Linked DNA regions of Homo sapiens. The protein of the gene in region 1 interacts with the protein of each later gene in a pairwise test. Each region holds a gene or a part of one and is shown on either strand. Other genes may lie near its edges. The genes, in order: FKBP7, HHATL, WFDC2 and TXNDC12.

Region 1 (7,469 bases):
TGGTTTTTCCATGCTTTTGCCAAGTTGTTTTGTGTTTGCTAATCTGATGAGTGAAATATGATGTCTCATTTTTAATTTCTCTTTATGAATAAAATTAAGTATTCTCATAGACTTAAAGGCCATTTGTAGTTTTTTGTTAGTGGGTGCTTATTTATGAATTTGGCCCATTTCTAGGGATATGTCATTTTCATTATTGGTTAGCAAGTCTTCATACATGTTACAAACATTTTTCCCGCTTATTTGCTTTACCTAGGTTTTCAGATCTTTTTGCTGTAGGATTTTTAAAATGACAAGATATTGAAAGAATAAGATCATTTCTTGCACATTTGAAGGCTTGTCCTGTATTGGGGTAATAATGACTGACAGCCCATTATATCTCAGCTGTTCCTTTTACAATGTGCCCGTCCTGTCCTTTTACTCTAAACCTACATGTTCCAGTTTCTGAGTTTTATGAATTTAACTTTGGTACTGCTTACCAAAGATCTGTGTTATAAATATTTATGTAATAATAACATATGCTGAAAACAAATAAAAATGCTTAAGGTAGAGCTTATAGAATATATATAATCATCATGAGTGTTGCCACAATGTAGAAGAAAGAACTCTGGCCAGAGATCTATATTCAAACAATGTCATATTATCCTTATAAGCAAAAAGAAGGGACTGGACTGAACTAGATAGAGCTTAAGGTCATTGGGCTTTACTGTTCTCTTTATTTCATCTATCATTTTTTATTTCACTTTTTTGTTTTTAATTGTGGTAAAATACACATAACATAAAATTTACCATCATAACAATTTTCAAGTGTGTTGTTCAGTAAAGTACGCTTACACTACCATGCAACCAATCTCCAGAACTCTTCATCTGGCAAAAATGAAACTCTATACCCATTGGTCAACAATTCCCCTTTTCCCTCTCACTTCAGCCTCTGGCAATCACCCTTCTACTTTGTCTCTATTAATTTGACTACTCCAGGTACCTCACATAAATGGAATTATACAGTATTTGTCTTTTTGTGACTGGTTTATTTCATTTAGCATAATGTCCTCAAGGCTGATACATGTTGGTGCATGTCTCAGAATTTTCTTCCTTTTTAAGGCTGAATAATATTCCATTTCATTTTTTTTTTTTTTTTTTTTGTAGAGCAGGGTCTTGCTGTTGCTCAGGCTGGTCCTGGCCTCAAGTGATTCTACCACCTTGGCCTCCCAAAGTGTTGGGATTACAGGCATGAGCCACTGTGCCTGGCTTCCATATATGCATGTATTCATTTTGTTTATCCATTTCTCTATGTATGGACATGTGGCTTGCTTCCATCTCTTGTCTATTGTACATGGCTGCTATGAGCATGGCTGTACAAATATTTCTTTGAGACTGTGCTTTCAATTCTTTCAGACCTATATACCCAGAAATCTATTAATCATTTTTTAAATATAACTAAAACAAGAAATTAAAATTAAACATCTTACCATAGCCTTCCTTTCCGTATGCAAATGAAGGGGGTATAACTACTTTTCGCTTTTCTCCAGGGCACATATCTGTCATAGCAATGTCTAGGCCTTTTATGACTTGCCCAACACCAAGAACAAACCATTTGGGGTGGCCTTCATTTTGTGTCCGGCTATAACAAAAAGCAATACTTAAGTAAACTGATTTCAAGAAATCAAACTTGAAAATACAGCTGGGCATTTAAAATTGGAGTCCTCTCTAACCATCATTCCCATATAATCACTCTTTCTAAAACCCTTAATGGGGTGTTTGACTCAAACTTCCCTATAATCACCAGAAAGAAGTATGATTTGCCCAAAGTTAATCATTAACAGCCATCTCATTTTTTAAAATTGTTATCTTTACAAAAACTATTCAACAGTTAACTTTTTAATGGGTCTCCAGCCCCTAACTAGGTGCATGGCTTGTACAAAGAACTCATTTAACTCCCTGGGTTTGTTGTAAAAAAATGATAGGGCAGTTTTAGCCTCAAAAAGTCATTTTAATAGTAATTTAAAATGGTATATTTTCTTATTAAATTCTAATGATATAATTTATTAAATTCTTATTAAATTATAAAATTGTATAAATTCTTATTAAATTTCTCTATTTTATTCTAAATGGATGGAACTGTTTTTCCCAGTCCTATCTTTACAGGGTAAAGAAAAGATTCTCCCTCTGAGTAATAAGCCATCAATTAAATCAGAGTAGGCACCAGGTGGAATGAGGGAGCAGGGCCCACCAGAAGTCACCAGGGAAGTAACTGTTTTTCTTGATAGAAAGTGGCCACAACCTATAAAAATCGTGCTTCTGAAGGCCAGAATTAAATCTCTTTATTCCATGTATTCCTCCGTAAAGACTCAATACTTCTGGCAAGGGAAAAATGTGAACATCCTTATAGGCAGAACCTTGATTTAATTCTGGAGGTCCCAAGGGTAATGGTGGTGGTTGATGTGTGTGTGGATGTATCGTATTTTTGATAATTTATTGCCACAACATTTTCAATACTTTAAATAAAAATATTCAGTTTATTAGAGAAACACTGCCATATAATGTGATTTTTTTTAATGAATAAAGGGCTCAACTTTTACCGTTAAAAAATAAAACCCCAACCAACCAACCAATGAGGCTTCCGCTTGGTGGAGGCAGGCAAGATTTTGTGCAACTGGACGCACGGGCAGCTCGCAGCATTTCCTACCTGCAGTAGAATTTCGAGCCGTCTTTAGCCAGGTAGCCGTCATAATGGGCATTTAGTAGGTCTCCCTTCTTGCTTGTCTTAGAGCAGTTTTCTGGACGATGCAAAACTTCTATTTTCACTTCTTCGGTGCTCTCCTCTTTCTTTTGTCTCTGAGCAGTAAAAAGGCCCCACAGATAAAAGAAAACAATGAATCTGAATAAGAAATGCATGGTTTTTGGCATCGGCTCCAGCAGAACACTGCTCTCCCTCCCGCGTGTCACTCGCGCCCCGTGGATGTCCCGCGGCCGAGTTCCGACGCGTGGCAGGCGTTGTCCTGCGTCACAAAGGGCCGGGGCGGGGCCATAGATGCGGCCCCGCCCTCTCATGGCCCCAACCCCTCCGCCTCCCGCAGCGGGCTCAGCGCGGTTAACGCTGTTTCTAGGCCCTCGGGCTGGCTGTCCTCAGTCTTTAAGATCGCAACGCACACTCGCTCCGCTTCTTCTCGCTAAACCCGCGTATTTTACAGCAGGTTTCCTCAGGGTTCGGTGACAACATTCGCATTTTCTAAAATGAAACTGGCATAAGACGAAATAAACAGCCTGGGATGTCGTAGAGTCAGGGAATATGGTTGTCATTTCTGGAAGCAAAAGGCTTCTAAGACCCCTAGGGAACGAGCAGATAGATACTGGGGGGAGGGAGAGGCATGCTGGAAAAGGAGCGTAAAAAATAGGCTGGCGGTGGCTTTCTGGGTGCTTCGGAGGTGTCCTTGAAGCGCATTCTCAGGTCGGAATCTTGCATTCAGAGGTTCCAGGCTGAGTCGCACAACCTGAAGGCCAGCCCGATGCAACGAAACTGCGGTACCGCAACTCCTCTGCCTGGCTGCAGGCGTTTCCGAGAGCCGACCTCCACAATTCAGCATCCTCCGCTGGCTTGCATTTCTTTTCCCCGCCACTCGGGGCCGCCCTTGATTCGAGGGCCTCTGGTAGTGCGGGGAATGTTCTTTTGACTTTTTTGTACCATCCCATGGGATACGTAATTGTCCACATCAGTCAAGAAAACTTGAGTATTGGGCATGTTGTCCCAATCTCACAGCTAATACGCAGCAGGGATTTGGTCAAATCTGTGTGACAACACCACTTCACCACCAATTTTAGTATGAAAACCTTTAAAATACACAGAAAGTTGAATTCTACAGTAAACTCTCCTACACCCACCATCTGGATCCTGTCATTGAACTATATTATATTTATTACATATCCATCCATCACTCTATCCATCCATCAATTCGCCTTGTTTCCAAGTGAATACCCAAAGACTACCCAAACCAGAAAACCAGCAAAGGCCTTCTGCATTCGCCTGGATTAAGTTCTGGGAGTAGAGGTGCTATTCTACCTCGGTGATGCGAAGAAAAGCCGCAGCACTGAGCCTGATTGATGTGCTTTGCTTAAAGTTTGCAAAATTCCATAAACCTGAAAATTACTGTCGATTATGCAAGATGACAATTGCGTCCAAGCAGGAGTTTCAAAAATCATAAAAGCTAGGGGGAAGTCCCCATTTCTAGACTAAAATTCCGAAGTCGAGTTCCATGTTTTATATTCTAAATAAAATTGTGGCTATCCAAGGTTATCGGCGTGATGACAGTTCCTTGGGGGCCCTCGCCATTCCTTGTCAGAGGACCCCGTCTGCTGCACATTGCCTTCCTAGGAGATAATTTCAGACCCCTTGAATATGAGGAAAATACGAAGCAAACAGAAATAGGAAGGCTTTTATGTATTTTTGAAGAAAAAACAGGATTTTATGTAAAATAAAAACAGGATTTCATGAAGAAACAGGATATTATGTATTTCTGAAGAAAACCCAGGAAAACCCGAGAGAACTAAGTGCCCGCGGGATGAGTGTGCGGGCAGCTCCTCCTTAGGTAGGCACCGGGGCTGCGCGCGCAGCGGAGCTCGAAGGTCTTGTCCCCCGGGGGCGGTCAGCCTGGGCCTTGGCGGCCAAGGGGAAACTTGGGAGCCTCGGGACTGTTGGCCACCGGCCCGTGGGAGGAGTAAAGGCGGCCCTGGCTGGCAGGCCGAGGGTGTGACGCGCCGGCCCGCCCTCCTCGCGCAGCCTCCGGCTAGGCGGCGAGGCCGCAGGCCGCGCCCGCTCCTTCAGCCCCGCCGCCGGGGAGGGGTTTCCCGGGACGATCCGGCCCCTTTCATCCAGGAAGTGAAATCGACGTCGGGGTCAATGAAAACAAACGGGGAGCCCAGGGGGAAGGAAGGCAGGCGAGGAAGAGGCAGCGCCGGGGCGCCGGAGGGAGCAGCCGGGCTGCGGAAGCGCGAGCAGGAGGCCGGTCGCGGGCGCATTTTTGCCGTTGTCGCGGCCGCCGCCGCCGAGGCTTACCCGGGAATGTCTGGGCCCGCGCCTCGCGGCCCCCAAGCTCCACGCTGCGCCCGCTGTCCCGGCCTCTAAAGGCCGCCACGTCCCTGCGGCGCGCGCAGGCAGAAAGCGGCTTCGTGCCGGCGGAGGGGGCCCGGGCGGGCCGGGAGGGGCTGCCCCAGGCCCTGCGCCTACCCCATCACCGCGGCCGGCGCCGGGCCGGGAGGATGCGCGGTGTGGGGCTCTGAAGCATGGAGGGGGTGTTGTACAAGTGGACCAACTATCTCACAGGTATGGGGGCTCGTGTGATGAGGGAAGAGGGGAGAGGCGGGGGGCTGCTGAGAAGGCGGGTCGGGGCTCCTCTTCCTCCGTCTGGCCTCCGCGGACCCTCAGAGCGAATTCGCTCTACTCGATTCCAGGGCTTGTTGAGTCCTTCTGGCCTCTTCAGGGGAGGGTTTGAGGCTGCGCACCTTCTAGAGGGTGGGAAGTGCACCTGCCACTTCTTTGCTAGTGTAATAATACTAATCCTTGCCTCCTGTAGCCTCAGGAACAATTCTCAGTCACCCTACATGTGTTGTTGCGATCTCCGTCCTTATTCACACTTAGTATTCATACTTTAAGAGCATTTTGTTAATAACTGAGTTGTCGGAGTATTGGACTGGAATGGACCCTTTAATTGTTTCAACTACAAGATTTAATTTTAATTCTTTTTTGTATTTCTTTTAATTTCCTTAACATTTTATTTAAAACGTTGTCTTGTTGAGGTTGTTCAAGCTTAGCGAGCATGATTTTGGAAGCTGTCCCCAGATAATATTCTCTTAGGGATTGTCATTGAAGTATCCTTACGTTGGGGAATTCTGTTAACTGAGAAATAGTGGAAGAAAGTGTCAATACACAGAAGGGGAACAGGCAAGTCACTTTCACCTGTGAAGTGGGTTGGAAGGAAAAACTTTGAAGAAATGAGAGACCAGCAGGAAAGGGCCCCTTACCATGACATTGGCAGCCTGTAGGCTTATTTAAAAGCTCCTTAAATTTGAGTTGTAGTCCAATCTCTGCCATCAACCAACAATGAAGGCAAGTCAGTTATTCTTTCAGGACCTCAGTCTGATAAGGCCAGGGTGATTAGTTATTTTGCCCCGGGATGCCTTCCAACTCCAGAATTCCATGACCTCACTAAGTGAGAAGATGGTTTTAACATAAATTTGAACAGTAAACAGATTTTTTGGGGGGGGGGGGTCTAGCATAATAGGCAAATCATGACTTGCTGCCCACTTCTTCGCTCTGCCAAAAGTATCACATCCCTCAGTAATTGTGTGGTACTCTCGACTTGTGTCCACCTGATCTTGTGCAAAATGTGCAGGTAAACTTTTTAAGGCATAAGCACTGAGCTACAGTTATACCTGCTTTTTGATTTATTAGAATGCTAAAGCCAGATTTGTAGCAGCAAATGCTTTTAACATTTATGATACACAGATGTTTTATTTTGTTCAAACTAAAAACTCAATTTATTTCTATAAGTGACATGTTTTAACGGGAAACATTTAAAAGTTAGATAAATATTTTTTATTGGGCATTTTCATTTTGGCCATTGTGAGAGCAGTTATACTGTTTGGTTGAGGTATAGTGTTAACTGTTAAAGACAGTAGAGTGCTTCATGCTTGTAATCCCAGCACTTTGGGAGGCGGAGGTGGGAGGATTGCTTGCTCAAGACCAACCTGGGCCACATAGGGAGACGTGGTCTCTACTAAAAAAACAAAAACAAAAACAAAAAACAGCTAGGTGTGGTAGTGCACACCTGTAGTCCCAGTTACTGAGGAGGCGGAGGCGAAAGGATTGCTTTAGCTAGAGAAATGGAGGCTGCAGTGAGCTAGGATCAGTGAGCTATGATTGTACCCACACACTTCAGCCTGGCTAACAGAGCGAGATCCTGTCTCAAAAAAAAAAAAAAAAAAAGACATTAGCTTGTATGCTTTGAGATGCAAATGCTCATCTCATTGCAAGTGTTCCTAAGCATGGTGTTGTGGAACCATTGGGCCATTACTGAGATGAGTCATAATTTAAGAGTTGAGATGAAACCTGGGCTTGGTGGCGATTTCCTTATCTCCTATGGTACTAAATAACCAGGGGTTGAGCTTTTAATCACATGTGATTTAGATTTTAGTCTTTGCAGGGCATTTAGTCAACTTCTAGTATGCATTGTAGAAGCTGGTTGAAAAGAAATCTTTTGTTTGGAAGAATTTATTTTTAAAAGTTAAATTTGGGTAGATGGTGTGCTGATTATTAATTTTAGTTCATCTTAGGTCATAAGAATGAGCAGCTGTTCATACTAAGTGATCTTTAAGTGTAATGATAGTGTTGTTCAGGCACGGTGGCTCATGCCTGTAATCTCAGCACATTGGGAGGCTGAGATAGGCAGATAGCTTGAGGTCAGGAGTTTGAGACCAAC
Region 2 (7,032 bases), on another chromosome or scaffold:
AGTCTGTGCGACCTGGCTGGGAGTACATTGGCCGGAAGATGGTAGGTCCCCCACATCCCAGGGTCCCTCCCATCCCGAACCCTTCTCTGCTCTCTGCTGTTCCAGATGTTGGCAAGTAACAGAGAGCTTCTCACAGCTCTGGGGCCTCTGGCTTGAGCTTCAGTGCCTTCAGCTTCTTTACTGGCCCCTCCTGTATCCTCCTGGGACATCAAGTTTGCCCGGGCCCTGCTCACTTGGGAAATAGGTCGCATTAGTGGAGTGTGCTTCAGTGGAGCCTCCAGCACCTCCTTCCCAGAAACAAAGCAGTAAAGGGGGAATGGCAGGCAACGTGCGGAGGAGAGGGGGAGCTTCAAGCGACCCGGCAGCCCCCATGGTGCCCTTCACTCCTCTCTACCCTCCTGCCTCGGTACTTCCTTCACAGAGGAGTGTGGAGACCTGCAGGCACTGCTCTTGTGTTTGCATAAAGAGGACACGTTGGGTTTGGCTAGTGGTAAAAAATAATTATTATTATTAAATTTAAAAATGATAATAATAAAAGAAGAACATGAAGGCTGGGAAAGGTGCTGGGGCTCTGACCAGCCCAGGTTCCAGCTCGTCCTGTCCCCTCTCCCACCCTCACCTGCCCCACCTCCTTCTGCCCCGGACTGCCCCAGGATGTGGCTGACTTCGAGTGGGTGATGTGGTTCACCTCCTTTCGCAACGTCATCATCTTTGCCCTCTCCGGACATGTGCTGTTTGCTAAACTCTGCACGATGGTTGCCCCAAAGGTGAGCTGGACCTGGGCCACCCAGCCTCTCCCTGCCAGCTCCTCTTTCACCACAAGGGTTGTGGGAACCCCCTCCTGGGGTCACGCCCCCATTTATATGGCGAAACTGAAGCCTTCTCCCTGCCCACAGCTCCGCTCCTGGATGTATGCTGTGTACGGGGCCTTGGCTGTGATGGGCACAATGGGCCCTTGGTACCTGCTGCTGCTGCTTGGTCACTGTGTGGGCCTCTATGTGGCCTCGCTTTTGGGCCAGCCCTGGCTCTGTCTTGGCCTTGGCTTGGCCAGCCTGGCCTCCTTCAAGATGGACCCCCTAATCTCTTGGCAGGTGTGAACTGGTGCAGGGGTAGAGGGTGTAGGGATAAGATCCCAAACCTCTCACTTCATCCAAAGTCCTTGCACCCCAAGTATCCCCAAGTATTCCCTTCACTTTCCACCTGTCTTCAAGCCTTTGGGTATGTCCTGGCCACAAGGTGAGCACCTGCATCACAGGAGGAACTATCCAGATCATCCCCTGCTCCTCGCATTGCTGGGATAGAGCAGTGGCCAAAGTTAACTGGCTCTGGAAGAGAGGAAGGGACAGGACCAGGCTGGGCCCCTGTGGGAAGCTAGGGAGTGGGGAATAGGTTTTCCAGAGACAGGAGGCACCCTAGTGAGCTGGTGGCCTGTTCTTTCCCCCTCCAGAGCGGGTTTGTAACAGGCACTTTTGATCTTCAAGAGGTGCTGTTTCATGGGGGCAGCAGCTTCACAGTGCTGCGTTGCACCAGCTTTGCACTGGAGAGCTGTGCCCACCCTGACCGCCACTACTCCTTAGCTGACCTGCTCAAGTACAACTTCTACCTGCCCTTCTTCTTCTTCGGGCCCATCATGACCTTTGATCGCTTCCATGCTCAGGTGAGGGGACACCCTGTGGGCTTCTAGAACAGGGCTGAATCTCCCTTTTCAGATTGGGGTTTCCATCTCAGATAGAATTCCCCAAGCAGGCTGTATCCCCATCCTCAGGCATGATTCCAGGATGAAGCCGTGTCTCCCCTCCCTCCTCAGACCCCAGGATGGGGCCACCTTTCCCCTCCAGCAGGGACCCCAGGGTGGAGACATGTCTCTTTTCTCAGACAGGACTCCCAGGCCACGAATGTTCCCTTCCCACTCAAATGGGGCTCCCAGGACAGAACTGGGTCTCCCATGGCTGGCTGTGAATCCTCCTCAGACTCCAGGGTGACCTCTGTCTCCACCCTCAGGCAGGACTCCTGGATAAAGCCATGGCTCCTCCTGCCCCAAGTAGTTGGTGAGCCCCCCTCAGACAGGGCTCCCCAGGCAGGGCTTGCCTCTTCCCTCAGACCCTTCGCATCCCCCCAGGTGAGCCAGGTGGAGCCAGTGAGACGCGAGGGTGAGCTGTGGCACATCCGAGCCCAGGCAGGCCTAAGCGTGGTGGCCATCATGGCCGTCGACATCTTCTTTCACTTCTTCTACATCCTCACTATCCCCAGCGACCTCAAGTTCGCCAACCGCCTCCCAGACAGTGCCCTCGGTGGGTCCACAGAAGAGAAATGGGGGCAGGGCTGCCGCCCCAGGAAAACAGACCCTCTGCACCCCCACGGTGCCACAGTCAGGGGAGCTGAGGCACGCAGGGCACAGCACCTGAGGGCGTGGGAGCAGGGGCTTATTCTTTCTAATGCATGGGTCTTGGCATTAGCTTCATCCTGTGGGGCCAGAGCAGCATCCCACGGACCCCACCCACTTCACCAGGCATGACTGATTTCCACAATATGGGGGGGTCTCCGTGGGGCGGGCAGAGCCTGGTGTCTCCCCAAGGAAGTGGTGGGACAGGGTCTTCATGGGGGCAGGCCCCAGGCGATTGGACCCCAGGCAGTGACAGTGCCCTGCCCCCAGCTGGCCTAGCCTATTCAAACCTGGTGTATGACTGGGTGAAGGCGGCCGTCCTCTTTGGTGTTGTCAACACTGTGGCATGCCTCGACCACCTGGACCCACCCCAGCCTCCCAAGTGCATCACCGCACTCTACGTCTTTGCGGAAACGTGAGTGCTGGCCAGGACGGGGGAGGCTCACCCCCTGGGACCACACCTTCCCCTAGCCTCTTCCCCCATGCCTGGGGAGCTCTGCGCCTGATGGCAACATGCCCATCTGCTTTCCTCTTACAGGCACTTTGACCGTGGCATCAACGACTGGCTTTGCAAGTGAGTAGGAGTGGGGTGGGGGTGGTCACAGCCATCCTGCCAGGTGTCTGAGCAGGGCAGTGCCAAGATGGGTCCACATTTTAAAAGATCACCCCTGGGCCAGGGGAAGCAAAGAGGGCAGTGAGGAGGTATTGGCAGAGGTCTGGGTGAAAGATATAGAAGTTAGGATTTAAGTGAGGGCCCTCGAGGTGGAGAGAGGTGGTGGGAGGAGGGTCACACAGTCAGCAGCCTGAACAGGACGTGGCCATGAACTGTGGGTGTTGGGAAGGAGAAGGAGATGACGCTCAAATTGCTGTCTGCAGCCTGGGAGGATGGAGGGCAGTTTCCAGAGAGGGCTTCAGTTTAAGAAATGTATAGTCGCAATCTAGGAGACATCCCTGTGGAGGTTCAGGGAGGTGGTTGGGTCTGAGGGTCTGGGTTTCTGAGGGTCCAGAGGACTGATGGAACTCAGAGCGTCCTGAGTGTGGGCAGGTGGTTTTTAGGCTTTGGGAGTGGGTAAGTCCTCAGGAGAGGGAGTGGTGTGAGAAGAGGAGAGACGGGGATGGCCGAGATTCAGCCTGCAAGAGCTCTGCTTGGAAGGAAAAGGAGCCAGCAGAAAGGACTGGAAAGAGTAGTTGGAGGGGCAGGAGAAGAATCAAGGTCATGTGCCACCCTGGAAGCCAAGGGAAGACCATCCAGGCATGGTGGGGACAGCTTGGTCAGATGCCACTGAGCCTCAAGGAAGCTGGAGACCGAGGATTAGTGCTGGTGACATGGAGGTTTTCAGCCTTTCATGGGCAAGGCAGGAGCAGGTAAGGAGGGAAAGTCAACTGAGGAGTAGAGAAGTGTGTGATGACTCCTGGAAGAAGCCTGGGACTGCAGGGGGAAGACAGGAGTGGCTGAGGGAGAAGAGGGATGTGTTAAAGATAGGAGAGAATGGGACATGCTAAGAAGAATTATTCAACAGAGAAGCTGGGGATGCAGGATACAGGGGTGATTGATGGAGTGAGGTCCCTGAAGAGGAAGGAGGTGAGGGTGTCTAGTTCCAGGCGGAGGCCTGGCTTCAGTGGGAGGAGGAGGAAGAGAAGCCAGTGTGGATGCAGAGGAAAGCAGGTTAATGTAGACAAGTAAGGGATTCCACCTGAAGGCTTCAGCCTTGTCCATGAAGCAGGAGGCACGGCCATCAGCTGAGAAAGCCAGGACAGGGACGTGGAGAGAGGCAACATATATGCTTACCCCCACAACCCAGCCTGGATCCCCCCACTCATACTATCTCTCCACTCATACTTGTGGGGAGATAAGAATACAGTGGCCCTTGCAGAGCAAGGGAGAAGCAGCTGACTAGAGAAATCTTGGCACTGAGTACCCAGGTGGTATTGGAGGTGGTGGGCTTATGAACTCCAGCATGTGAAGATGTGAGATTTCCCCCATGGGGCTTAGCTGCCTGGGTGTAGCTGAGGAGAAAGTAAGTGATTGGGCTCTCCCAGATGGATGACAAGGAAGAAGTCAGGAATAAGGGTTTTTAGATTATTTATAGTCATGACTCATTGGATATAAGCCTGCTAAGGACGGTGGTGAAGGTGGGAGGGTCACAAGATCAATGGGATTGAAGAACTGAAGCTGGGGGGCCAGGAGGTCAAGAGGAGTTGGGCAAAGAATGGGAATTAGAAAGGAGTGAACTTTCAAGTGGTGACAAAGTTGGGGCATGGCCATGGGTGTGGGTGGCTGAGGTGGAGTGGAGAAAAAGCCATTGGAAATGAGGAGGTCGAGGAATGGAGAGGCTGGTTATTCCTGGGTCTTCCACAGAACTTATTTAACAAATATTTATTGAGCACCTATGTGCCAGGCATTGTTCTAGGCACTGGGGATACAGCAGTGAACATGGCAAAGACCCTGAACTCATGGAGCTTACAGTCTAGTGGGGAGAAACAGACCATAAACAGGTAAACAAACATAAATAAGATAATTTTAGAGAGTGGTAAGTGTTATGAAGAAAATAAAATTGCAATGGGATAGAAGTTGACAACAGGGTAGAAGCTTCTTTAGTCGGGGTCTAGGCAGGCTTCTCTGAGGAGATGATATTTGAATTGAGATTTGAGTGATAAGGAGATGTGGAGCAGAGAATACCAGGTAGAGGGAACAACAAGGGCAAAGGCCTTGAGACACAAACCAACTGTGTGGGTGTAAAGGTAAGAAAGGCCAGTGAGGCCAGCATGATGAACTGGGGGAGCATGGTGGCTGATTTGGTCAGGAAGGGAACAGAAACCAGACCACTTGGGATCTTCTAGCCAGAGTAAAGAGACTGAGTTTATTCCTATTGTAATGGGGAGCTATTCAGAGAGGTTAATCATGGAAGTGATGTGACCTGAGCTACACTCTTAAAAGATGCCTCTGGCTGCTGTGTGGAGAATGAACCATGGGGGCAAAAGCAGAAACAAGAAGACCACTTAAGAGGCTCTTGCAATAATTTATGTGAGAAGAGTGATCATCTTGACTAGGGTGGTGGTGGTAGAGGAGGTGAGTGGTGGTCAGGACTGAGAGGAGCCAACAGAATTTGCTGGCTTGCTTGGATGTGGGTGATGAGGCAAACTGAGAATCCAAGATGGCACCAAGGCTTATACCCTGAGCAACTGAATGGATGGTGGTGCCATTCACTGAGATGAGGACGGAGCTGGGTTTGAGCAGGGATAGGGGAATCTGTCAATCAAGTGACATGGCTAGTAGCAATTGCATATACAAATCAGGAGAGACTGGGCTAAAGACACAGATTTAGGGGTCATCGTCATAGAGCTAGTACTTGAAATCTTGGGTCTGGATGAGATCATTTGGGAAGTAAACGAACAGAGATAGAGAAGCTATAATGTCCCAGGCTGAGCCTGCCACAATTTGAAGTTGGTTGGAGGAGGAGCTGCTACGTGAGGTCAGGAATGTTGAATGCACCCAGGGTGACAGTGTTGAGGAGGACGCCCTGTTGTGTGTCCTCTCCCATCTCATCCCTGCCCTTTCCCACACTCCCAGTGGCCCTTCTCCCATCTTTCCTGCAGATATGTGTATAACCACATTGGTGGGGAGCATTCCGCTGTGATCCCAGAGCTGGCAGCCACAGTGGCCACATTTGCCATCACCACACTGTGGCTTGGGCCTTGTGACATTGTCTACCTGTGGTCATTCCTTAACTGCTTTGGCCTCAACTTTGAGCTCTGGATGCAAAAACTGGCAGAGTGGGGGCCCCTAGCACGAATTGAGGTGAGCAGGGAAGACCTGGGGCTGGGACTGGCTGGGTCATAGAGGGCGGGGGGGCACTGCTGCTTTCTGGAGTTGTCCAAACACCTGGCCCCTAATCCAGAACTTTCTCACCACCACCCTCTTAGTTGTCAGAGCAATGGCTCACTCTGTAGGAATCTGCCCCTCCCTCCCTTCTATGAGGAATGGAGCACCTGGGCCTTGCCATGTTGGTCAGGCCTTGTCCTCTCTCTGGACCTGTTTCCCCATGTTTAACAAGGAGGGAGAGCTGACCTGGGGCTCTCCGAGACCCAGACATAGCCCCAAGACCTGACTGGCCAGGTGGGTAAGGCTGCTGACCCACCATGTCCTCTTTCCTTTGGCCTCTTGTCCCGCTGCCCATGCTTTCCTGGACCGGATAGGCCTCTCTGTCAGTGCAGATGTCCCGTAGGGTCCGGGCCCTGTTTGGAGCCATGAACTTCTGGGCCATCATCATGTACAACCTTGTGAGCCTGAACAGCCTCAAATTCACAGAGCTGGTTGCCCGGCGCCTGCTACTCACAGGTGAGGGACAGGGGTGTGGGGATACAGAAGGTGCCAGGCATCAGCCTCAAGGACCGTGACCTTCCAAAATGCCTCCTATCTCCCTCATCACCCCTGGGACTCAGAAGGGAGGGCCCATCAAGCGGGGAGAGGGGTGGGAAGACAAAAGTCGCTGAGGATGCAGTGCTGCTCCTGAGCATCTATGACTCCCTCCCCACACAGGGTTCCCCCAGACCACGCTGTCCATCCTGTTTGTCACCTACTGTGGCGTCCAGCTGGTAAAGGAGCGTGAGCGAACCTTGGCACTGGAGGAGGAGCAGAAGCAGGACAA
Region 3 (7,032 bases), on another chromosome or scaffold:
TGGGTCAAATGGTATTTCTTGTTCTAGATCCTTGAGGAATGGCCACACTCTCTTCCACAATGGTTGAACTAATTTACACTCCCACGAACAGTGTAAAAGCATTCCTATTTCTCCACATCCTCTCCAGCATCTGTTGTTTCCTGACTTTTTAAGGATCTCCATTCTAACTGGTGTGAGATGTTATCTCATTGTGGTTTTGATTTGCATTTCTCTAATGACCAGTGATGATGAGCATTTTTCATGTTTGTTGGCTGCATAAATGTCTTCTTTTGAGAAGCATCTGTTCATATCCTTCGCCCACGTTCTAATGGGGTTTTTTTCTCGTAAATTTGTTTGAGTTCTTGTAGATTCTGTATATTAGCCCTTTGTCAGATGGATAGAGTGCAAAAATTTTCTCCCATTCTGTAGGCTGCCTGTTCACTCTGATGATAGTTTCTTTTGCTGTGCAGAAGCTCTGTAGTTTAATTGGATCCCATTTGTCAATTTTGGCTTTTGTTGCCATTGCTTTTGGTGTTTTAGTCATGAAGTCTTTGCCCATGCCTATGTCCTGAATGGTATTGCCTAGGTTTTCTTCTAGGGTTTTTATGGTTTTAGGTCTTACATTTAAGTCTTTAATCCATCTTGAGTTAATTTTTGCATAAGGTGTAAGGAAAGGGGTCCAGTTTCAGTTTTCTGCATATGGCTAGCCAGTTTTCCCAACACCATTTATTAAATAGGGAATCCTTTCCCCATTGCTTGTTTTTGCCATGTTTGTCAAAGATCAGGTGGCTGTAGATGTGTAGTGTTATTTCTGAGGCCTCTGTTCTGTTCTGTTGGTCTATATATCTGTTTTGGTACCAGTACCATGCTGTTTTGGTTACTGTAGCCTTGTAGTATAGCTTGAAGTCAGTTAGCGTGATGCTTCCAGCTTTGTTCTTTTTGCTTAGGATTGTCTTGGCTATGTGGGCTTTTATTTGGTTCCATATGAAATTTAAAGTCGTTTTTTCTAATTCTGTGAAGAAAGTCAGTGATAGCTTGATGGGGATAGCATTGAATCTATAAATTACTTTGGGCAGTATAGCCATTTTCACGATATTGATTCTTCTTATCCATGAGCATGGATTGTTTTTCCATTTGTTTGTATCCTCTCTTATTTCGTTGAGCAGTGGTTTGTAGTTCTCCTTGAAGAGGTCCTTCACCTCCCTTGTAAGTTGTATTCCTAGGTATTTTATTCTCTTTGTAGCAATTGTGAATGGGAATTCACTCATGATTTGGCTCTCTGTCTATTATTGGTGTATAGGAATACTTGTGATTTTTGTACATTGATTTGTATCCTGAGACTTTACTGCAGTTTCTTATCAGCTTAAGGAGATTTTGGGCTGAGATAATGGGGTTTTCTAAATATACAATCATTTCATCTGCAAACAGGGACAATTTGACTTCCTCTTTTCCTAATTGAATACCCTTTATTTCTTTCTCTTGACTGATTGCCCTGGCCAGAATTTCTAATGCTATGTTGAATAGGGGTGGTGAGAGAGAGCATGCTTGTCTTGTGCCGGTTTTCAAAGGGAATGCTTCCAGCTTTTGCCCATTCAGTATGATATTGGCTGTGGGTTTGTCATAAATAGCTCTTGTTACTTTGAGATACCTTCCATCAATACCTAGTTTATTGAGTGTTTTAGCATGAAGGGTGTTGAATTTTATCAAAGGCCTTTTCTGCATCTATTGAGATAATCATGTGGTTTTTGTCATTGATTTTGCTTATGTGATGGATTACGTTTATTGATTTGTGTATGTTGAACCAGCCTTGCATCCCAGGGACAAAGCCAACTTGATCATGGTGGATAAGCTTTTTGATGTGCTGCTGGATTTGGTTTGCCAGCATTTTATTAAGGATTTTCGCACTGATGTTCATCAGGGATATTAACCTGAAATTTTTTTGTTATTGTGTCTCTGCCAGGTTTTAGTATCAGGATGATGCTGGCCTCATAAAATGAATTAGGGAGGAGGCTCTCTTTTTCTATTGTTTGGAATAGTTTCAGAAGGAATGGTACCAGCAACTCCTCTTTGTACCTCTGGTGGAATTCGGCTGTGAATCTGTCTGGTCCCAGACTTTTTTTGGTTGGTAGGCTATTAATTACTGCCTCAATTTTGGAACTTGTTATTGGTCGATTCAGGGATTCGACTTCTTCCTGGTTTAGACTTGGGAGGGTGTATGTGTCCAGGAATTTATCCATTTCTTCTAGGTTTTCTAGTTTATTTGCGTAGAGGTGTTTATAGTATTCTCTGATGGTAGATTGTATTTCTGTGGGATCAGTGGTGATATCCCCTTTGTCATTTTTTATTGTGTCTATTTGATTCTTCTCTCTTTTCTTTATTAGTATGGCTAGCAGTCAGACTATTTTGTTGATGTTTTTCAAAAACCCAGCTTGTGAATTCATTGATTTTTTTTGAAGGGTTTTTCATGTCTCTATCTCCTTTAGTTCTCTCTGATCTTAGTTATTTCTTGTCTTCTGCTAGCTTTTGAATTTGTTTGTTCTTGCTTTTCTAGTTCTTTTAATTGTGATGTTAGGGTGTCAATTTTGGATCTTTCCTGCTTTCCCTTGTGGGCATTTAGTGCTATAAATTTCCTTCTAAGCACTGCTTTAGCTGTGTCTCAGAGATTCTGGTATGTTATGTCTTTGTTCTCATTGGTTTCAAAGAACTTATTTATTTCTGCCTTGATTTTGTTATTTACCTAGTAGTCATTCAGGAGCAGGTTGTTCAGTTTCCATGTAAGGTTATGCGGTCTTGAGTGAGTTTCTTAATCCTGAATTCTAATTTGATGGCACTGTGGTCTGAGAGACTGTTAGGATTTCCGTTCTTTTGCATTTGCTAATTAGTGTTTTACTTCCAATTATGTGGTCAGTTTTAGAATAAGTGTGATGTGGTGCTGAGGAGAATGTATATTCTGTTGATTTGGGGTGGAGAGTTCTGTAGATGTCTATTAGGTCTGCTTGGTCCAGAGCTGAGTTCAAGTCTTGGATATCTTTGTTAATTTTCCGTCTCATTGATCTGTCTAATATTGACAGTGGGGGTTAAAGTTTCCCACTATTATTATGTCGGAGTCTAAGTCTCTTTGTAGGTCTCTAAGAACTTGCTTTATGAATCAGGGTGCTCCTGTATTAGGTGCATATATATTTAGCATAATTAGCTCTTCTTGTTGCATTGATCCCTTTACCATTGTGTAATGCCCTTCTTTGTCTCTTTTGATCTTTGTTGGTTTAAAGTCTGTTTTATCAGAGAATAGAATTGCAACCCCTGATTTTTTTTTGCTTTCCATTTGCTTGGTAAATATTCCTCTATCCCTTTATTTTGAGCCTATGTGTCTTTGCACTTGAGATGGGTCTCCTGAATACAGCACACCAATGGGTCTTGACTCTTTATCCAATTTGCCAGTCTTTGTCTTTTAACTGGGGCATTTAGCCTGTTTACATTTAAGGTTAATATTGTTATGTGTGAGTTTGATCCTGTCATTATGATGCTAGCTGGTTATTTTGTCTATTAGTTGATGCAGTTTCTTCATAGTGTCGATGGTCTTTACAATTTGGTATGTTTTTGCAGTTGCTGATTCCAGTTGTTCCTTTCTATGTTTAGTGCTCCTTTCAGGAGACCTTGTAAGGCAGGCCTGTTGATGAGAAAAATCCCTCAGCATTTGTTTGTCTATAAAGGATTTTATTTCTCCTTCATGTATGAAGCTTACTTTGGCTGGATATGAAATTCTGGGTTGAAAATTCTTTAAGAATATTGAATATTGGCCCCCACTGTCTTCTGGTTTGCAGGGTTTCTGCAGAGAGATCTGCAGTTAGTCTGAAGGGCCTCCCATAGTGGGTAACCCAACCTTTCTCTCTGGGTGCCCTTAACATTTTTTTCTTCATTTCAACCTTGGTGAATCTGATGATTATGTGTCTTGGGGTTATTCTTCTCAAGGAGTATCTTTGAGGTGTTCTCTGTATTTCCTGAATTTGAATGTTGGCCTTTCTTGCTAGGTTGGGGAAGTTCTCCTGTATAATATCCTGAACAGTGTTTTCCAACTTGGTTCCATTCTCCCCATCACTTTCAGGTACATCAATCAAACATAGGTTTGGTCTTTTCACATAGTCCCATATTTTTTGGAGGCTTTGTTCATTCATTCCTTTTCATTATTTTTTCTCTAATCTCATCTTCATTCTTTATTTCATTAAATTGATCTTCAATCTCTGATATCCTTCTTCTGCTTGATCAATTCGGCTATTGATACTTGTATAGGCTTCATGACGTTCTCGTGCTGTGTTTTTCAGCTCCATCAGGTCATTTATGTTCTTCTCTAAACTGGTTAATCTAGTTAGCAATTCCTATAACCTTTTTTCAAGGTTCTTACCTTTCTTGCATTGGGGTTAGAACATGCTCCTTTAGCTTGGAGGAGTTTGTTATTACCCACCTTCTGAAGCCTACTTCTGTCAATTTGTCAAACTCATTCTCCGTCCAGTTTTGTTCCCTTGCTGGCGAGGAATTGTGATCCTTTGGAGAAGAGGTGTTCTGGTTTTTGGAATTTTCAGCCTTTTTGTGCTGGTTTCTCCCCATCTTCGTGGATTTATCTACCTTTGGTCTTTGATGTTGATGATCTTTGGATGGGCCTTCTGAGTGGACGTCCTTTTTGTTGATGTTGATGCTATTCCTTTCTGTTAGTTTTCCTTCTAACAATCAGGCCCCTCAGCTGCAGGTCTGTTGGCGTTTGCTGGAGGTCCACTCCAGACCCTGTTTGCCTGGCTATCACCAGCAGAGGCTGCAGAACAGCAAAGATTGCTGCCTGTTCCTTCCTCTAGAAGCTTTGTCCCAGAGGGGCACCCGCCAGATGCCAGCCAGAGCTCTCCTGTATGAGGTGTCTGTCAGCCCCTGCTGGAAGGTGTCTCCCAGTCAGGAGACACGGAAATCAGGGACTCACTTGAGGAGGCAGTCTGACCCTTAGCAGAGCTCAAATGCTGTGCTGGGAGATCTGCTGCTCTCTTCAGAACCGGCAGGCAGGCTGAAGCCACATCCACAGCTGCCCCTTCCCCCAGGTGCTCTGTCCCAGGGAGATGGGAGTTTTACCTATAAGCCCCTGACTAGGGCTGCTGCCTTTTTTTCAGAGATGCCCTGCCCAGAGAGGAGGAATCTAGAGAGGCAGTCTGGCTACAGCGGCTTTGCCGAGCTGTGTTGGGCTCTGCCCAGTTTGAACTTCCTGGTGGCTTTGTTTACTCTGTGAGGGGAAAACTGCCTACTCAAGCCTCAGTAATGGTGGACGCCCCTCCCCCTACCAAGCTTGAGAGTTCCAGGTCAACTTCAGACTGCTGTGCTGGCAGTGAGAATTTCAAGCCAGTGGATGTTAGCTTGCTGGGCTCCATGGGGGTGGGATCCGCTGAGCTAGACCACTTGTCTCCCTAGCTTCAGCCCCCTTTCCAGGGGCGTGAATGGTTCTGTCTCACTGGCATTCCAGGCACCACTGGGGTATGAAAAAAAAATCCTGCAGCTAGCTCAGTGTCTGCCCAAATGGCCACCTAGTTTTGTGCTTGAAACCCAGGGCCCTGGTGGTGTAGGCACCCAAAGGAATCTCTTGGTCTGTGGGTTGTGAAGACCGTGGGAAAAGTGTAGTATCTGCTCCAGAGTGCACTATTCCTCACGGCACAGTCCCTCATGGCTTCCCTTGGCTAGGGGAGGGAGTTCCCTGACCTCTTGTGCTTCCCAGGTGAGATGATGCCCTACCCTACTTCTGCTCGCCCTCCGTGGGCTGCACCCACTGTCTAACCAGTCCCAATGAGATGAGCCACGTACCTCATTTGAAAATGCAGAAATCACCTGCCTTCTGCATTGATTCACTGGGAGCTGCAGACTGGAGCTGTTACTATTCGGCCATCTTGAAAGCTGAACCTAAATCTTTTTTTTTTTTGAGATGGAGTCTCGCTCTGTCGCCCAGGCTGGAGTGCAGTGGCATGATCTCAGCTCACTACAACCTCTGTCTCCCAGGTGCAAGCGATTCTCCTGCCTCAGCCTCCCAAGTAGCTGGGATTACCGGTGCATGCCACCACGCCCAGTTAACTTTTTTGTATTTTTAGTAGAGCGGGGGGTCTCGAGTCCTGACCTCCGATGATCCCACCCGCCTGAGCCTCCCAAAGTGTGGGATTACAGGCATGAGCCACTGCACCCGGTGATCTGTCAGCCACTTTCCTTGTCCTCTACAGCTAATCACCCAGTTCTGTGCCTGTGTTTTACACACAAAAACCTGCACATATTTATAGCAGCTTTATTTATAATTGCCAAAAGTTGGAAGCAACCATGATGTACCTCAGTTGATGAATGGATTTGGCTGGGCCTGGCTCCCCTCTATCTAACCTGGGAAGTGGAGTGTGATTGTGTGTGTGTTTGTTAGTGGAAGGACGTGTGGTTTCTCTCTGCATGGATGAATGAGTGTATTTGGAGGGTCATGGTGCTGAGAGACTGCAACTGGGATTCGGTCTGTGGGTATGAGTGAAGATTATAAGTGTGTAACCCCTCACATGTGTACTGTACTTTACACTTTAAGTGGCAGCATAGTGCTTAACCATGGCAGCAGCAGTTAACACATAGACTCTGCAGCTAGATTTCTTGGGGTTCAAATTCTGCCTCAATTCTGTGTGACCTTAGGCAAATTACTTAACTTCTCAGTGCCTCAGTTTCCTCACTTGTAACACAAGGAAATATTAACAGATCCCTCCCCTTCTTTTAGGATTATTGTGAGAATTAGAAGAGTTAATATATGTTAGGGGCTTGATACCTGGCATGTAATAAGAGCTAATTAAGTGTTCACTGTTATAATTTCTCATAACTACAGAGTAGTTTGATATTTCAGGGAGAAATAATATATGTTTGTTTCCCACTGCTTTCACAACAACCCTATGTTGTAATTAGCACTGTTCCACTGGCACCTAAAGACACGGAGGCTCTGGGAGATTTCTGGCCCTAGGCCACGAAGGCCCACTTGGGACTCAAGCTGAGGTCCTGTGATTCCATTTGGGAGCA
Region 4 (4,593 bases), on another chromosome or scaffold:
ATGGGCAACACGGTGAAAGCCCGTCTCTACAAAAAGTACAAAAATTAGCCGGGTGTGGTGGCACGCACCTGTAGTCTCAGCTATTTAGGAGGCTGAGGCGGGAGGATCAATTGAGCCTGGGAGGTCAAGGCTGCAGTGAGCCATAATCACGCCACTGCCCTTGAGCCTGAATGACAGAAGGAAACTGAATGACCCTGTCTCAAAAAAAAAAAAAAGAGTTTGATCATTTATTCACTTCAATAGCCATTTGCGCATCAGCCATATGTCAAGCACTGTATTAGACACTACAGAGACAGATATAAGCCAGAATTCTCACCCTTGAACCTATAGTGCACCTAAGGCAATGGAATAATATAACCAGATAAATGTCTTTCCACAAATAATTTTATAAGAGATATTTAATGACCACCTAATCTTTGTTCAGCATAAATTCTGCTAGGTTTTATGGGGGATAGAAGTCAAAATCATCAAGCAGAAAAGGAAGCAGAAATGTAGGAGGTATTATGGTGAGGTAATGGGCTGCAAATATGGGCAGATCTTATTTCCCAGAGGGCCCGATGTACCAGGTAGTGTTTGAAGTACCTGTCTGTTGTAATTACTGCAAAACTCTGTGTCATTTTGTCTATAACAGATCCCAGTGGCAAGGTGCATCCTGAAATCATCAATGAGAATGGAAACCCCAGCTACAAGTATTTTTATGTCAGTGCCGAGCAAGGTATAGTTATGCTGAAGGGAGGGAGGATTATTGCTAGATTGAACTAGGATGAACCACATGCAAGGTCTGTGATAGGAAAGTAAATTCAGCATGTTAGCTGAGCATCTCCTGCATGTCTATAGCTTTTGGCCAGATCCTGTGTAGGATATAGGAGGAAGATGAGACTGAGCCCCTTCCCTTGGAAGAGCTGACTGACCCACAGGCAGCTGTGAAGAACTGAGGCACACAAGTGACTGAGGTAGTCACTTGCCCATAGTTTCATAGTTAAGTAGCAGAGCCAGAATTTGAGTCCAGAACTTAGTTTTTTTCCTACTGAGCTAATACTGTTTTTCCTATGAAAATTCAGTGGAAGAGGAATAGTGTTAGGTGAACAAGTCTAAGAGGTTTTATAGATATTAAACTTAAATAGGCCGAGCACAGTGGCTCATACCTGTAATCTCAGCACTTTGGGAGGCCGAGGCAGGCAGATCACTTGAGGTCAGGAGTTCAAGACCAGCCTGGCCAACATGGCAAAGCCCCATCTCTACTAAAAATACAAAAAATAGCTGAGCGGGCTGGGCGTGGTGGCTCACGCCTGTAATCCCAGCACTTTGGGAGGCCGAGGCGGGAGGATCATGAGGTCAGGAGATTGAGACCATCCTGGCTAACATGGTGAAACCCCGTCTCTACTAAAAATACAAAAAATTAGCTGGCGTGGTGGCAGGTGCCTGTAGTCCCAGCTACTCGGGAGGCTGAGGCAGGAGAATGGCGTGAACCCGAGAGGCAGAGGTTGCAGTGAGCCAAGATCGTGCGCCATTGCACTCTAGCCTGGGTGACAGAGCGAGACTCTGTCTCAAAAAAAAAAAAAAAAAAAAACCAAAAAAACCCCGAAACGTAAACGGACCTAGAAGGATAAAAATTTCATCTCTGGACAGATATGAGGAGGACATTTCAAGCTATGGAAGTGAAGTGGCGGGGGAATGTAGCCCAACATAGAGTTTGTAAGGCTTGCTAGAAGAAATAATGACTGGATTAAGCCTTAGAGAATAAGACCTTGTCAGTAGCAGAATGGGAAAAGCATGTTCCAGGAGAGAGAAGAGCACCAGCACAAACAAGTGAAGGAAGTTTGCAATCGTCAGCCAGTCATGCTTTTTTGTTCTCTAATCTTTGAGCACAGTCATTCTGGAGGCAGGGGTTGGAATTCATGCCATGTATTGTTGCTGCTTTCCTTCCTTTTCCCCTCATCTATGAAAGGGAGTTGTGTGCTAAGTTGCCATGTGTCCCTATTTGCCATGCTGCCAGGCTGTTGATCACTTTATGATTTGAGTCCTTGATACTCTTATTCTCAGACTAGGGACGGGGAGGAGATCTGTAGAAGCTATTACCTTCTTCCCCTGAGTAAGGAGAATGTCATGTTCCTTAACCAAATGCAGATCACTGGAGATTGGTATCAAAGGGAAATTTTCCACGTGGAGAAGGGCAGCTGGGCTTTAGGTCTCCAATTCTTGTATCTTGAGATTCACCTTCCCTTTAGAATTTCATCCAAGTTACCACTGCTGTCTCCACACTGACATAGTCCAGATGTGAACATGAGACCCTTCCCTGAATCCTCCATCTCTCAGCTGACATGAAACTGGAACATTCAAACCCAGCTTTACTAAAGGCATAGGCAAAACAAAACAGAAATAACAAACTGTATTATCTGCCTCTTATGAGCTTATGGTTTGGCTTTGCAAGATTCATAGACTCTGGCTCAACCCAGCTTCTGGCCTGCCATTATATAGGGGTGCTTTGTAGAACCACCATTCAGGAGCCTATACTGAAATAGCTGTCCCCCTTGAGTCTAAATCCATAAGCAGGATGCCCCAAGACAGACAAGAAGTTTCATCTCGAGTCTACTTAAGGCCCTCCTTCCAGGTTTCTCTCTCTCTTTTTTTTTTTTTTTTTTTTTGGCCTGAGAACTTGGCTTCATCCATGTATAGTTGATACTGGAAATGACGACCCCCTTCAGTAGAGACACCCCCGCCCCAGCACACACACCCCTCAGTGTAATCTGTAACCTCCACAGGAAGTAAAATAAGTGCAACATTCATCCAAAAGATACAATGGGGACGGTAGGAAGGTGTTTCCTCTTCCCTGGGGGTGAAGTGAACATCTACAGTCTAGGACAGGGGATCAGCTCTAATCCTAGAGGGTAAGCCAAAATAACTGCTAAGATTTTGGTATGACTTCGTAGTTGATAAAGCACTTTTATTATCCATTCTCCCATTTAACTTTTATAATACTGTGTGAAGTGAGTTACATTATTTCATTTTATAAATGAGGAAACAAATTCAAAGAGATAAATGACTTGCCAGGGCCAAAATCCAGAGCTAGATCTTGAGTCCAGATCTTGTACTCCTCTCATATTTCTTCTGAAACATTTAAAAGTGTACATTGGTTGTCAAATGTCAAACATTACTTACTTCATACTTTTTTCCTCCAATCTTTATTTCACAGTTGTTCAGGGGATGAAGGAAGCTCAGGAAAGGCTGACGGGTGATGCCTTCAGAAAGAAACATCTTGAAGATGAATTGTAACATGAATGTGCCCCTTCTTTCATCAGAGTTAGTGTTCTGGAAGGAAAGCAGCAGGGAAGGGAATATTGAGGAATCATCTAGAACAATTAAGCCGACCAGGAAACCTCATTCCTACCTACACTGGAAGGAGCGCTCTCACTGTGGAAGAGTTCTGCTAACAGAAGCTGGTCTGCATGTTTGTGGATCCAGCGGAGAGTGGCAGACTTTCTTCTCCTTTTCCCTCTCACCTAAATGTCAACTTGTCATTGAATGTAAAGAATGAAACCTTCTGACACAAAACTTGAGCCACTTGGATGTTTACTCCTCGCACTTAAGTATTTGAGTCTTTTCCCATTTCCTCCCACTTTACTCACCTTAGTGGTGAAAGGAGACTAGTAGCATCTTTTCTACAACGTTAAAATTGCAGAAGTAGCTTATCATTAAAAAACAACAACAACAACAATAACAATAAATCCTAAGTGTAAATCAGTTATTCTACCCCCTACCAAGGATATCAGCCTGTTTTTTCCCTTTTTTCTCCTGGGAATAATTGTGGGCTTCTTCCCAAATTTCTACAGCCTCTTTCCTCTTCTCATGCTTGAGCTTCCCTGTTTGCACGCATGCGTGTGCAGGACTGGCTGTGTGCTTGGACTCGGCTCCAGGTGGAAGCATGCTTTCCCTTGTTACTGTTGGAGAAACTCAAACCTTCAAGCCCTAGGTGTAGCCATTTTGTCAAGTCATCAACTGTATTTTTGTACTGGCATTAACAAAAAAAGAGATAAAATATTGTACCATTAAACTTTAATAAAACTTTAAAAGGAAATGTGCTGTGATGGCCTTTTTGTTATTGGAAAAGGAGGGAGGGATGGAGATCACTTCAGGAAGAAAACTAACCTAGAGGACCTAATCTAGGAGTCCTAACCTAGGACTCCTGCTCCTTCACCTCCCACATTCAAATGAGCACAATGGCTCCTCTCTTTTACTTTTTAAATACCTGAATTTCCTCTGTCCACACTATCACTGTTTTAGCACGGGGCAGGCTTTTTCTCTCTTCGACTATTTATTGCTATAGCCCCTTAACTTGCCTATTGGCTCTAATATTCCCTCCTCCTGCAATCGATCCATATCACTCCCCTGTTTAAAACCTTTCCTGGCTGGACACAGTGGCTCACGCCTGTACTCCCAGCACTTTGGGAGGCCAAGGTGGGCGAATCACCTGAGGTAGGGAGTTCGAGACCAGCCTGGCCAACATGGCGAAACCCCGGCTCTACTAAAAATACAAAATTAGGCCGGGCGCGGTGACTCACGCCTGTAATCCCGGCACTTTGGGAGGCCGAGGCG

The links.
Region 2: the proteins of FKBP7 (region 1) and HHATL interact in binary tests that used the Homo sapiens proteins (3 or more experiments, as listed by UniProt).
Region 3: the proteins of FKBP7 (region 1) and WFDC2 interact in binary tests that used the Homo sapiens proteins (3 or more experiments, as listed by UniProt).
Region 4: the proteins of FKBP7 (region 1) and TXNDC12 interact in binary tests that used the Homo sapiens proteins (3 or more experiments, as listed by UniProt).

What each region holds. Positions count from the first base shown.
Region 1 is NC_000002.12:178,475,596-178,483,064, forward strand, and holds the start of FKBP7 (peptidyl-prolyl cis-trans isomerase FKBP7 isoform a precursor), read right to left. Parts: upstream 3,006-7,469; 5' UTR 2,905-3,005; coding exon 2,684-2,904; intron 1,619-2,683; coding exon 1,467-1,618; intron 1-1,466. Other genes in the region: PLEKHA3 (pleckstrin homology domain-containing family A member 3), read left to right, coding at 5,275-5,314. UniProt on the Homo sapiens protein: PPIases accelerate the folding of proteins during protein synthesis.
Region 2 is NC_000003.12:42,692,767-42,699,798, reverse strand, and holds part of HHATL (protein-cysteine N-palmitoyltransferase HHAT-like protein), read left to right. Parts: coding exon 1-41; intron 42-653; coding exon 654-767; intron 768-896; coding exon 897-1,091; intron 1,092-1,447; coding exon 1,448-1,657; intron 1,658-2,119; coding exon 2,120-2,291; intron 2,292-2,653; coding exon 2,654-2,798; intron 2,799-2,921; coding exon 2,922-2,957; intron 2,958-5,954; coding exon of another isoform or gene 5,955-5,980; coding exon 5,981-6,182; intron 6,183-6,580; coding exon 6,581-6,722; intron 6,723-6,923; coding exon 6,924-7,032.
Region 3 is NC_000020.11:45,472,721-45,479,752, forward strand, and holds part of WFDC2 (WAP four-disulfide core domain protein 2 precursor), read left to right. Parts: intron 1-7,032.
Region 4 is NC_000001.11:52,019,613-52,024,205, reverse strand, and holds the end of TXNDC12 (thioredoxin domain-containing protein 12 precursor), read left to right. Parts: intron 1-631; coding exon 632-715; intron 716-3,193; coding exon 3,194-3,273; 3' UTR 3,274-4,075; downstream 4,076-4,593. UniProt on the Homo sapiens protein: Protein-disulfide reductase of the endoplasmic reticulum that promotes disulfide bond formation in client proteins through its thiol-disulfide oxidase activity.